2 linked regions of the Homo sapiens genome follow. The protein of the gene in region 1 interacts with the protein of each later gene in a biochemical or structural test. Each region holds a gene or a part of one and is shown in the gene's direction. Other genes may lie near its edges. The genes, in order: MAP3K11 and RHOG.

Region 1 (3,803 bases):
AAGTCCTGGTTCATAGTAGAAGCTCATTTTTCCCAGCCTTGTATTTCTCCCTCCCGACATCCAACCTGCTGCTGCACTCCAGGCAGGAGGGGAAAGGCAGAGGGACAAGGCCAGGGAGGGCTTCAGAGGACCAGCCAAGGAGGCCAGACTTTCTCCTAGTGACAGTGGAGAGCCACAGCAGTTTCTAGAGCCAAGGAGGGATCTGACAAAATCAGGGCTTGTGAGAGCCCATCCTAGAGTCCCTTGTCCTTAATGAGGGGTTCCCCATCCCTGCCCAAGTGGTCTAGAATGGAGTCAGGCCAACCCTAGACTGGAAGGTAGGACACTAGTGTCTTGAAATCTAGGGCAGAGTCTGGCTGGGAAATGGTGGAGAGCAAAGGTTCTACTGCCCTTGCCTGGGGTGAGGCCGGCTCCACCTTTCACTGGCTGTACAGCTCCGCACAAGCCCTCAACCTCTCTGAGCCTGGAACCCCTGGGGCATGAGAATCAGACAACATAATGCCCCTATGCCATTCAGCTCAGGCCTGGCACAAATACATACTCTGTAAATTAGCTGTGACCTTGGGCAAGGTACTGACCCCTCTGAACCTCATTTTCCTCCTTTCTAGAATAGAGACAGGGATTTATGCCCTCAGGGCTGCCATGTACCTTAGAGTTGACTGTGTGCATCTTATAAGCTACAGCTGGAGCGGGGGTGGGTGGGCAGAAGGGGCAGGGCTGCCAAGCCAGGAAGCTGGTGGGCACAGAGCACAGGGCGCCGGTCCCAGTCAGTGGGACCTGCCATGCCCCTGGGCCTGGAGGTTGCCCCTGGCAGGCCACAGAGGCCCACTGTGACCTGGCCCCAGCCTGCCTCCACTGGGACTGCCCATCCATCTTTCGGGTCTGGGGTCGCTGGCTGCCATTGGGCTTTGCTGCCGCTTCCTCCACCTGCACTGCCCTCCCCTCCCAGTGCCCATCTTGTGAAAGGCCAGAATGTGGGTATGTGATGGGGAGGCCATGGGACCTGTGGGACCAGGGAAGATGCTAGTAGAGGGCAGAACTCAGTCCTTGTTCCAAGACCACGGAGAGGTCTTGGGCCCTCACCCGGAATATGCACCAGCCACACCCTCACCTGTGCCGCCTCTGCCCGCAGGTAACCCCCCGCGGCCTAGCCTGGAGCCCGAGGAGCCCAAGAGGCCTGTCCCCGCAGAGCGCGGTAGCAGCTCTGGGACGCCCAAGCTGATCCAGCGGGCGCTGCTGCGCGGCACCGCCCTGCTCGCCTCGCTGGGCCTTGGCCGCGACCTGCAGCCGCCGGGAGGCCCAGGACGCGAGCGCGGGGAGTCCCCGACAACACCCCCCACGCCAACGCCCGCGCCCTGCCCGACCGAGCCGCCCCCTTCCCCGCTCATCTGCTTCTCGCTCAAGACGCCCGACTCCCCGCCCACTCCTGCACCCCTGTTGCTGGACCTGGGTATCCCTGTGGGCCAGCGGTCAGCCAAGAGCCCCCGACGTGAGGAGGAGCCCCGCGGTGAGTGGCCTGAAGCCGGCCTGCTTCACATATGGGAGACGGGGGTTCCCAGGGAGGGAGGAGTGGCTGGTGGGGACATGCAAGGAGGCAAGGCCGAGACCACAGTCATCAGCTGGACCCTGAACCAGGCATTCGGGGTACTGAAGACGCATGTAGGGAGCAGAGTTCTAAGTTCAGCTATCAGGTGGTCCAGGCAGGTGGGGGCGATGCCTGCTGTGAAATAAAAGAAGTAATCGGGCCAGGCAGTGGTGCACGCCTGTGATCCCAGCACTCTGGGAGGATCACGTGAGCCTTGAAAGGTTGAGGCTGCAGTGAGCGGTGATCATGACACTGGACTCCAGCCTGGGCGACACAGCATACATGTAATCATAATCGTAGCAAACTCCTGGCTCCTTACTTGTGCCAAGTACTGTTTGCAAGGCTTTCCCGAGATGGTCTCATTTAGTCATAACAACCAGAGAACTAAGCGCTCCTGGATGCCCATTTTTAGATGAGGAAATTTAAGGCACAGAGATTAAGGGACCCACAGCTCCCACAGCTAGTAAGTGGCAGGGCCGGGATCCACATCCAGGCCAGCCTGCTGCAGAGGCCTCACTCCTAACTATTACAAAAAACAGAGGCACCACGGAGCAGGAAGGGCGGTGGAAGTTGAGTCAAGTAGGTCACTGTGCACATGGGGAAACTGAGGCCCAGAGCAGGACAGTGTCTTGGGGACCTCAGCAGTTGGGGGTTGCTTGACCCTGTGCCCCTCCTATATCCTCACAGGAGGCACTGTCTCACCCCCACCGGGGACATCACGCTCTGCTCCTGGCACCCCAGGCACCCCACGTTCACCACCCCTGGGCCTCATCAGCCGACCTCGGCCCTCGCCCCTTCGCAGCCGCATTGATCCCTGGAGCTTTGTGTCAGCTGGGCCACGGCCTTCTCCCCTGCCATCACCACAGCCTGCACCCCGCCGAGCACCCTGGACCTTGTTCCCGGACTCAGACCCCTTCTGGGACTCCCCACCTGCCAACCCCTTCCAGGGGGGCCCCCAGGACTGCAGGGCACAGACCAAAGACATGGGTGCCCAGGCCCCGTGGGTGCCGGAAGCGGGGCCTTGAGTGGGCCAGGCCACTCCCCCGAGCTCCAGCTGCCTTAGGAGGAGTCACAGCATACACTGGAACAGGAGCTGGGTCAGCCTCTGCAGCTGCCTCAGTTTCCCCAGGGACCCCACCCCCCTTTGGGGGTCAGGAACACTACACTGCACAGGAAGCCTTCACACTGGAAGGGGGACCTGCGCCCCCACATCTGAAACCTGTAGGTCCCCCCAGCTCACCTGCCCTACTGGGGCCCAACACTGTACCCAGCTGGTTGGGAGGACCAGAGCCTGTCTCAGGGAATTGCCTGCTGGGGTGATGCAGGGAGGAGGGGAGGTGCAGGGAAGAGGGGCCGGCCTCAGCTGTCACCAGCACTTTTGACCAAGTCCTGCTACTGCGGCCCCTGCCCTAGGGCTTAGAGCATGGACCTCCTGCCCTGGGGGTCATCTGGGGCCAGGGCTCTCTGGATGCCTTCCTGCTGCCCCAGCCAGGGTTGGAGTCTTAGCCTCGGGATCCAGTGAAGCCAGAAGCCAAATAAACTCAAAAGCTGTCTCCCCACATGTAGCCTGTCACCTTTCTTGGAGGTAACCAGGTGACCCAACCTATCATACAACCCTGGTGTCCTGATGCCCCAACAATAGGCAGTTGGATGCCTTGTACTGCATGCCTCTCCTGGGACCAAATCCACCAGCCTTGGTCAGTCATTCAAGGCTCTTCTCGGCCAGGTGCAGTGGCTCACTCCTGTCATCACAGCAGTTTGGGAGGCCGAGGCCGGCGGATCACATGAGGTCAGGAGTTCAACCTGGCCACATGGTGAAACCCCATCTCTACTAAAAATACAAAAATTAGCCAGGTGTGGTGGTGCATGCCTGTAGTCCCAGCTACTCTGGAGGCTGAGGCAGGAGAATTGCTTGAACCTGGAAGGTGGAGGTTGCAGTGAGCCAAAATCACGCCACTGCACTCCAGCCTGGGCAACAGAGCAAGACTCCGTCTCAAAAAAAAAAAAAACAAAAAACCATAGGCCGGGCATGGTGGCTCACGCCTGTAATCCCAGCACTTTGGGAGGCCGAGACGGACAGATCACAAGGTCAGGATTTTGAGACCAGCCTGGCCAATATGGTGAAACCCCGTCTCTACTGAAAAAAATATATATATATACAAAAATTAACCAGGCGTGGTGGCAGGTGCCTGTAGCCCCAGCTACTTGGGAGGCTGAG
Region 2 (2,561 bases), about 62 Mb from region 1:
ATTGACCACCAAGAGTCCCCCATGGCCAAGAGGAAGTAGCTGATGAGAGAAGGATCCTTGCCATAGCAGTGTAAATAATCACAGGGTTTCTGGAAGCTGTGTTCCAGAACTCAGAAAAGCAGTTCATCTCCCCGAGGCCCTGTGACCTGCAGAGGTAACCAGATGTTGGCTGGAGCTGGGACTCCTCATACTTACCCCACTCATAAATACAGCAGTCCATTTATTGGGCACTTGCTATGTGCCATACCTCATGCTGGACATCTTCTATACATTATTAACTCTTACTTTTTATTTTTTTTTTTTTGAGACAGGGTCTTGCTCTGTCGCACAGGCTGGAGTGCAGTGGTGTGATCATAGCCCACTGCAGCCTTGACCACCCTGGGATCAAGTGATGCTCCCACCTCAGCCTCCCGAGTAGCTGGGACTACAGGTGTGTACCACCACACCCTGGTAATTTTTTCATTTTTTGTAGAGTCAGGGTTTTGCCATGTTGCCCAGGCTAGTCTCAAACTCCTGGGCTCAAGCGATCTACCTGCCTCATTCTCCCAAAGTGCTAAGATTACAGGCATGAGTCACCGTGCCTGGCCTCATTTCATATTCTGAGCAATTGTAATGCAATAGGCAAGATTATCCCCATTTTACAGATGAGAAAATTGAGGCTCAGGGAACAAATATATTGCCAAGATCACATATAACTAGTTGGTGGAGCTGTGATTAGAATACCTGCGAGTCTTACTCTAGCATCTATGTTCTTAATGATGGTATTTTCTATCCAAGAGTCTGGAAGTCTCTAAAATCTTTCAGAGGCACATGCCAGGATCTCAGGAAATGGACAGAAGATTGAGGGGAAAGTCAAGTTTTTGTCTTACTCTTGACTTCATCCTTCCTAGTTGGGCCTGAAAGATTTGCTCCAGGCCGGGCATGGTGGCTCATGCCTGTAATCCCAGCACTTTTTGGAAGGCCAAGGCGGGCAGATCACAAGGTCAGGAGTTCAAGACTAGCCTGACTAACATGGTGAAACCCCGTCTCTACTAAAAATACAAAAATTAGCTGGACGTGGTGGCATGCGCCTGTAATCCCAGCCACTCGGGAGGGTGAGGCAGGAGAATCGCTTGAACCCGGGAGGTGGAGGTTGCAGTGAGTCAAGATTGCGCCACTACACTCCAGCCTGGGCGACAGAGCAAGACTCCGTCTCAAAAAAGAAAAAAATTTGCTCCACCCCACCAAGGGCCTTGAGAGAAGATACTAATGTCTGGGAGCCTCAGCCTCTACCTCATTCATCATAACATACCCAGACCCCAGTCCAAATCCCAGGTCCAACTGAATCTCCAGTATTCCCCTGCATTGAATTGGCAATCTGAGTGTACATGGCCAGATAGGGTTTTCAGTACTTACAAGAATGATGGGGTGGCCAGGTGTGGTGGTTCACGCCTGTAATCCCAGCACTTTGGAAGGCTGAGGCAGGTAGATCACCTGAGGTCAGGAGCTTGAGACCAGCATGGCTAACACGGCGAAACTCCATCTCTACTAAAAATATAAAAATTAGCCGGATGCAGTGGCACCTGCCTGTAGTCCCAGCCACTCGGGAGGCTGAGGCAGGAGACACTTGAACCCAGGAGGCGGAGGTTGCAGTGAGCTGAGATCACGCCACTGCACTCCAGCCTGGACGACAGAGTGAGACTCCATCTCAAAAAAAAAAAAAAAAAAAAATTTCCCCATTGCCAGAATACCCTGGATTGGGATAGGGCAGCTCTCTAAAGAATTGAGCCCCTTACTCAGCAGGTTTCTTAACTGTGCCTTTGGGTTTGTACTCAGTAGCCAAGATACCAGGTTTGGAGAGGGCAGGGTGGGCCCTGAGTTGAGAGAGGTTCTACTTATGGCTGCATCACAGAGTGACCTGGGACAGCTGTCCTGTGCCAAAACACTTTCCAGTCTCCTGGTGGAAAGGGTCCATATTTAGTAGAGGATCTAGTAGATCCCTAAATTTGTGCACTCTCCTTTTGTGTCTGTATAGCCTGGAAAAAAAAAATAGCTAATACTGGCCAGGCGCAGTGGCTCACGCCTGTAATCCCAGCACTTTAGGAGGCCAAGGCGGGCGGATCACGAGGTCAGGAGATCGAGACCATCCTGGCCAACACGGTGAAACCCCATCTCTACTAAAAATACAAAAAATTAGCCGGGCGTGGTGGTGGGTGCCTGTAGTCCCAGCTACTCGAGAGGCTGAGGCAGAATGGCGTGAACCCAGGAGGCGGAGCTTGCAGTAAGCCGAGATGACGCCACTGCACTCCAGCCTGGGTGACAGAGTGAGACTCTGTCTCAAAAAAAAAAAAAAAAAAATAGCTAATACTTGTGGACGAGGCACTGTTTTAAATGCTTTACATGTATTATATAATGCTCACAATGACCCAGTGAGGTAGATATTATTTTATCCTCATTTTACTGGTAAGAAAACTTAGGCATACAGAGGTTAAGCAATTTTTTCAGGGTTACACAGCTAGGAAATAGCAAAATCAGGATTTGACCTTAGTTTGTCTGGCGCCAGAGTTTATGTGCTTTCTACC

Evidence for each region.
Region 2: the proteins of MAP3K11 (region 1) and RHOG form a complex in vitro, tested with the Homo sapiens proteins (one study listed by BioGRID).

What each region holds. Positions count from the first base shown.
Region 1 is NC_000011.10:65,597,098-65,600,900, reverse strand, and holds the end of MAP3K11 (mitogen-activated protein kinase kinase kinase 11), read left to right. Parts: intron 1-1,132; coding exon 1,133-1,507; intron 1,508-2,272; coding exon 2,273-2,610; 3' UTR 2,611-3,144; downstream 3,145-3,803. UniProt on the Homo sapiens protein: Activates the JUN N-terminal pathway. Required for serum-stimulated cell proliferation and for mitogen and cytokine activation of MAPK14 (p38), MAPK3 (ERK) and MAPK8 (JNK1) through phosphorylation and activation of MAP2K4/MKK4 and MAP2K7/MKK7.
Region 2 is NC_000011.10:3,828,399-3,830,959, reverse strand, and holds part of RHOG (rho-related GTP-binding protein RhoG), read left to right. Parts: intron 1-2,561.